2 separate regions of the Homo sapiens genome follow, and region 2 is linked to region 1. The links come from fine-mapping of genetic effects on gene expression. A gene starts in region 1. The other region holds a variant in brackets. All regions are shown on one strand. Distances are between the middles of the regions.

Evidence for each region. PIP is the estimated chance that this variant, and not a neighbour inherited with it, causes the effect. A credible set is the group of variants that fine-mapping cannot tell apart.
Region 2: its variant is the best candidate, but not a certain one, in a credible set for the expression of DCAKD in lung (TOPMed, PIP 0.58).

What each region holds. Positions count from the first base shown.
Region 1 is chr17:45,050,092-45,052,992 of GRCh38, forward strand. It overlaps DCAKD (dephospho-CoA kinase domain containing), which reads right to left and starts at 1,541. Exons shown (of 5, transcript NM_001288655.2): 1 at 1,270-1,541. RefSeq lists a silencer at 1,182-1,681.
Region 2 is chr17:45,102,903-45,105,803 of GRCh38, forward strand. It overlaps NMT1 (N-myristoyltransferase 1), which reads left to right. Exons shown (of 12, transcript NM_021079.5): 9 at 49-219; 10 at 807-974; 11 at 1,957-2,094; 12 at 2,717-2,901. The coding sequence ends at 2,737. Among named protein-coding and RNA genes, the nearest start is that of MIR6784, 10 kb to the right of the region's middle. RefSeq lists an enhancer at 624-1,124. The variant TAG/T (reference allele first, on the strand shown) is at 1,667.

The DNA.
Region 1 (2,901 bases):
GTGCAGTGGCACGATCTCGGCTCACTGCAACCTCAGCCTCCCGGGTTCAAGCGATTTTTCTGCCTCAGCCTCCCGAGTAGCTGGGACTACAGGCATGCACCACCATGTCCGGCTAATTTTTTTGCATTTTTAGTTGACACGGGGGTTTCACCATGTTGACCAGGCTGGTCTCGAACTCCTAACCTCGGGTGATCCACCCTCCTCAACCTACCAAAGCGCTGGGATTACAGGCGTGAGCCACCGTGCCCGGCCCAGAGGGTAATTTTCAAAACAAAGCTAAGTTCGTGGCTTGCCTGCCTTCAGCTATCAGCCCTCTTCTTCTCTCCTTAAGGTACAGGCACCAAGAGGGGCTCGGAGACCATTTAAACGTTATTTACCAAGGGGACAGATTCAGACCTTGGTGAAGACAGACAGAGGAGGATTTGGTGGGAATTTAGGGCCCTGCTGAGACAAAAACCACCCGAACCCGTCTGTCCACTTTCTATCCATCTACCAGATCTCTAGCATTTCACCCCTTTCCCCAGGCCTATGCCAGCACTGTGCCACACCAACTCAATCTTGATTTATTCAGGTAAAATGAGCACTCTCCCTCCTGCAAAAACAAACACGTTTAAGACATAAAACATATTCAAAGGCTTCCATTTCCTCACCGTTAGAATTGAGACTTAATGTCAAAGTTCACTTGGGTAGGTTGAATCATTTTCCCACAACTAAGGGAGAGTGAAAAATCTTTGAAAACTCTGTAAGCAAACACCTGAAATGCCAACGCCTCCTTTGCGGAGCTGGGGAAGGAAGAGACGGGTGGCCGGATGGCCTCCCTCACTAGTTGGTGGGCGTGAGATCCACGCCGCCCCAGTCCCGGGGGCCTTCACTAAAACCTTAACTGGCCTCCCAGGGGAGAGGGAAGCGGAGGAGAGGGGTCTGAAAATCGGAGATGATCACTCAGCTCAACAGTAAAGCACTTTATACCCACCCTATGGGACAGATACTGTAGCTTTATTCCCATTTTTCAGATGAGCAAACTTGGGATCGGAAAGATACCCCAAGGTCACACAACTGAAGTGGCAGAAGCTAGATTCAAGAATCAATCGGCCCGCAAAGTTCTAAAGGGCAGTGGCTTTGGTCTGATCCTGAGTTTGAATCCACAATCTCCAGCCCTTTCTAGCTGTAAACCTTCCTGCGCGTCCTCAGCCGTAAAACAGAGGAAATAACACGTTGCTTGGTAGGGTTGCTGTCAAGACAATGGGCCGTGGATATAAAAGCACTTGCCTTAGTGCTGGCCGCATACGACGCGCTCAATACATCGTAACTCAGGCTTTCAAAAGAGGCCCGTACGCCCCACTAGGCCGCGAAATTGGGTCGCCCGGGGCGGTGGCAGCCCCGCGTAGCAGCCGCGGCCAGGGCCCGCCCCCTCCCCGGCGCCCGGCTGGCTCTCACCGGCCCGCGTGGCGCGCTACGTACCCAGCGCCTCCGCCGTGGCCCAGGCCTCCGCCTCTAGCCCAATCTCCGCAGCGCTTACAGGCCGGCTCAGCGGGCGAGGCGGGACCTCGGGAGCGCGCGCCTGCAGACCGGACGTCCGGCCAGCAGGCGGGGCCGGGAGAGGTTGGACGGGCGGGGCCGGGAGAGGTTGGGTGGGCGGGCGGGGCCGGGAGAGGTTGGGCGGGCGGGCGGGCGGGGCCGGGAGAGGTTGGGCGGGCGGGCGGGCGGGGCCGGGAGAGGTTGGGCGGGCGGGCGGGCGGGGCCGGGAGAGGTTGGGCGGGCGGGCGGGCGGGGCCGGGAGAGGTTGGGCGGGCGGGCGGACGCGGGAGAGGTTGGGCGGGCGGGCGGACGCGGGAGAGGTTGGGCGGGCGGGCGGACGCGGGAGAGGTTGGGCGGGCGGGCGGACGCGGGAGAGGTTGGGCGGGCGGGCGGACGCGGGAGAGGTTGGGCGGGCGGGCGGACGCGGGAGAGGTTGGGCGGGCGGGCGGACGCGGGAGAGGTTGGGCGGGAGAGGTTGGGCGGGAGGGCGGCCGGACGGACGCGGGAGAGGCCGGCGGGGAGAGCTCGGCCCCGGAGCACGGCACAGAGGTCCCCCGCAACCCCCGACCCGGAGCCATAAATTTTCCTTTCCCCGGAGCCGGGAAGGAGAGGGAGAGAGAGGAGAGGGGCAAAACTGCAGGGTCCTAACTTCGGATATAAAGCTCGGCCACTCGCTACTTGTGCAGCCTTGGCAGAGGTGATCATGAGCACTTTCCACCTGCCAGGTCCTAAGAGCACTTTGTGGGATTATCTCAGCCCGCACAGTCCGCAGGGTGGATACTATCATCATCCCCATTTTACACAACAGGAAACTATGTTTAGCGGTTAATCCATTTGCCCTCTCATACAAAGTCATGTGATTGCAGAGCCCGCATCCTGTCCATACAAGCCTAGCAAGCCACTCAGCCTCTCATCCTGTCTCCTCTCAAAGTGGGGATAATCGCAGCCGTGCAGCGTTGTTGAAAGAATACATAAAAGCCGGGCACGGTGGCTCACACCTGTAATCTCAGCACTTTGGGAGGATCACTTGAGCCCAGGAGTTCGAGACCAGCCTAAACAAGAGTGAGACTAACCCCCGATCTCTACAAAAAAAAAAAACAAAAAACAAACTAGCCAGGCATGGTGACAGTGTGGTCTCATTTACTCGGGAGGCTGAGGCAGGAGGATGGCTTGAGCCCAGGAGGTCAAGGCTGCAGAGAGCCATGATGGTACCACTGCACTCCAGCCTGGGCAACAAAACGAGACCTTGCCTCAAAAAAAATAAAGCATCTAGGCCGGGCGCTGTGGCTCACGCCTGTAATCCCAGCACTTTGGGAGGCCAAGGCGGGTGGATCACCTGAGGTCAGGAGTTTGAGACCAGCCTGGCCAACATGGCAAAATCCC
Region 2 (2,901 bases), 53 kb after region 1:
CCAGGGTGATCAGCTCATCTCACTCCATCTCTTCTGTCTTGCCTCCAGACTCCCAAGACAGCTGGGCTGCGACCAATGGAAACAAAGGACATTCCAGTAGTGCACCAGCTCCTCACCAGGTACTTGAAGCAATTTCACCTTACGCCCGTCATGAGCCAGGAGGAGGTGGAGCACTGGTTCTACCCCCAGGAGAATATCATCGACACTTTCGTGGTGGAGGTGAGTCAGGGAGTGGTGTTCCAGGTCTCTAACACGTTCCCAGAGAGGCACCCCCCTGAGTGGCCGGGTTCCCAGGGCTCGAGTGTTGGCACCTTAGACTTCCTTGACCATCCGTGTTTGGTCCTCCCTAAAAACAGGGAGTTGGTGCTTGAATTTGCTGAAAAGATACCTCTGGATCTGGCTTGAGCCCTTCTCCCCCTCTGCCCCACTTTGATAACACAAAATAGAGAGAACTGAGCCCCGCTTAATCCTTCAGGAAAGCCTGCAATTCCCTGCCTGTCCCAGCTTAACCCAGTGCTGACCAGACATAGGAGACACAGTCTGGGGGGATGTGAGCTGCAAGAAGAGGTCCCTGGCGGTGCCCATGCTGGGAAAGAGGTCTGGCAGGTTCAGCCCACGATCACGGCTCTGTCCTCAAGTGCCCTGAGCCAATGTCCCTCCTCCTCCCCACATGTCCTGTTGCAGTTTCCAGCCATTTATCTAGAGGGGCAGAGCTGCCTGAAGGTGGAGTGAGAGAAACATTTTGTTCCCGGGCCGCAGTGCCACTGTGCATGCTTGACATTGCCTCTTTATTGCCTTCCCTTCAGAACGCAAACGGAGAGGTGACAGATTTCCTGAGCTTTTATACGCTGCCCTCCACCATCATGAACCATCCAACCCACAAGAGTCTCAAAGCTGCTTATTCTTTCTACAACGTTCACACCCAGACCCCTCTTCTAGACCTCATGAGCGACGCCCTTGTCCTCGCCAAAATGGTGAGGAGCAGACGGGGGGGTCTCTGGAGATGTGCAGGGAAGAGGCAGTGGAGCCATGGTGAGCACAGCTCCCGGGACGCAGCCTCCCATGGGCTGGAGGCTCTGAGCCCTCCTCATCTGTTCTGCTTAGGCAGGGTTCCCGCAGTTTTTAGGCAGAAACTCAAAACTTGGAGGGAACAAGGAGCATCCGAAGTGAAGGCATTGAACTCCTCCTGATTCATTTCAGTGAGTTTCGTTCTCACAGGAGGCGCCACCAAGGAGCCTGAATAGCCAGGCCTTCCCTGGGAGGACAGGGCTTCTCCTCACAGCTTTCCCAGCGTGGGAAAGGGGTGATTGCTGTCTGTCGTGGTGAGTCATTGGAGCATCCAACTGCCAGTAGCGGATGGCGAGCCCGTCTGTCAGTGCTTTGCTGTGGGTTCTGGTAACCTGTGCCCAGCCCAGCCCAGCCTGCTGTAGGCAATCTGGTCCCTGCCCTGTGAGAGCTTCTGCTCCAGTTGGTGAGGTTTAGGAAGCATCTTCACAGTCTCCAAGCAACACAGCAGGTGTCATACAACATGAGGTGCACTGAGGGCCTGAGAGTTGGGGCATCCATGGAGTAAGGAAGCAACACAAACCCCATGTAGCTGACCAGAGCCAGCTTCTCAGAGGAATGGGCTCAGGGTTTGGACTCCAGAGAGGACTGTGGAAATTAC[TAG/T]AGTTTCAGGGAGGCATAACCAGGAATAGCAAGAGCCCCGGCCTGGACACTGAGTACATATGTGTACACTCTGAGGGACACTGGGCAGAGGCCAGGCTGGAGGGGGCGCTCAGAGTGTCCTGAGAACCACCCGGAGAGCGGGGATTAACGTGGAAGCAGCGGAGCTTCTGAGGGAACCTTGTTCTTGTGGCTGCCCACAGGACAGCTTTGAAATGGCAGCAAAGGGGTAGGAAGGAGGCTGTCCCCACCTGTCCTCACCTGTTCTTGTTTGTCCCTGCTGCTTTGCAGAAAGGGTTTGATGTGTTCAATGCACTGGATCTCATGGAGAACAAAACCTTCCTGGAGAAGCTCAAGTTTGGCATAGGGGACGGCAACCTGCAGTATTACCTTTACAATTGGAAATGCCCCAGCATGGGGGCAGAGAAGGTAGGCGACACATAGCCAGAGTCCAGGCTGCCCGGCCCAGGGTGTCCATGTCTCCAGCAGAAACCGGGCCATGGGTTGAGGAGACAGCCGCAGTCTGGGTCCTTGTTACCTCGAGTTGAACCTTTGAAAATGCCCTCCCTCTGCTGGCCAGACCAGCAGGTCAGCGTTCCCCTCTCAGCAACTGGTGTGAGGATGGCAGAGGGGACAGAGCCACACAGTAGCACGAAGATCATCTCCAATGAGGCCTTCCCACGTGAGGGAACCGTGGAAGTTGAGTTGCCCACGGTTTGCCAGGAGGGTAGGGCTGGGGGAACTCTGAGGAGGTTTCCTCTCCTGAGCTGCTGCCCTCTTCTGGCATGACACTTTCTTAGCCCTTCCTCCCCCAGTGCCACAGGGGACATAGGGGTGAGCTGGAGCGTGGGCCAGTTTTCCCTGGGAGGTCTGATGGACGTGTGAACCCTGGTGTGGAGGTTGAGTGTGGGGCCGGCTGGGTGTGAGTCTGCTCCCACAGCACAGGCGGTGGACCCGGGCCCAGCCACTCGGAACTTCAGGGATAGGGGGTGTGGGAGAGTCTTTGGGCCACTGTCAACTCAGCTCTGCCTCTCCCTGTTGGCTTTCCTAGGTTGGACTGGTGCTACAATAACCAGTCACCAGTGCGATTCTGGATAAAGCCACTGAAAATTCGAACCAGGAAATGGAACCCCACCACTGTTGGTCCAATTTTCACACACGTGAGAATCCCTGGCAAAGGGAGCAGAACTGAACCGGCTTTACCAAACCGCCAGCGAACTTGACAATTGTATTGCG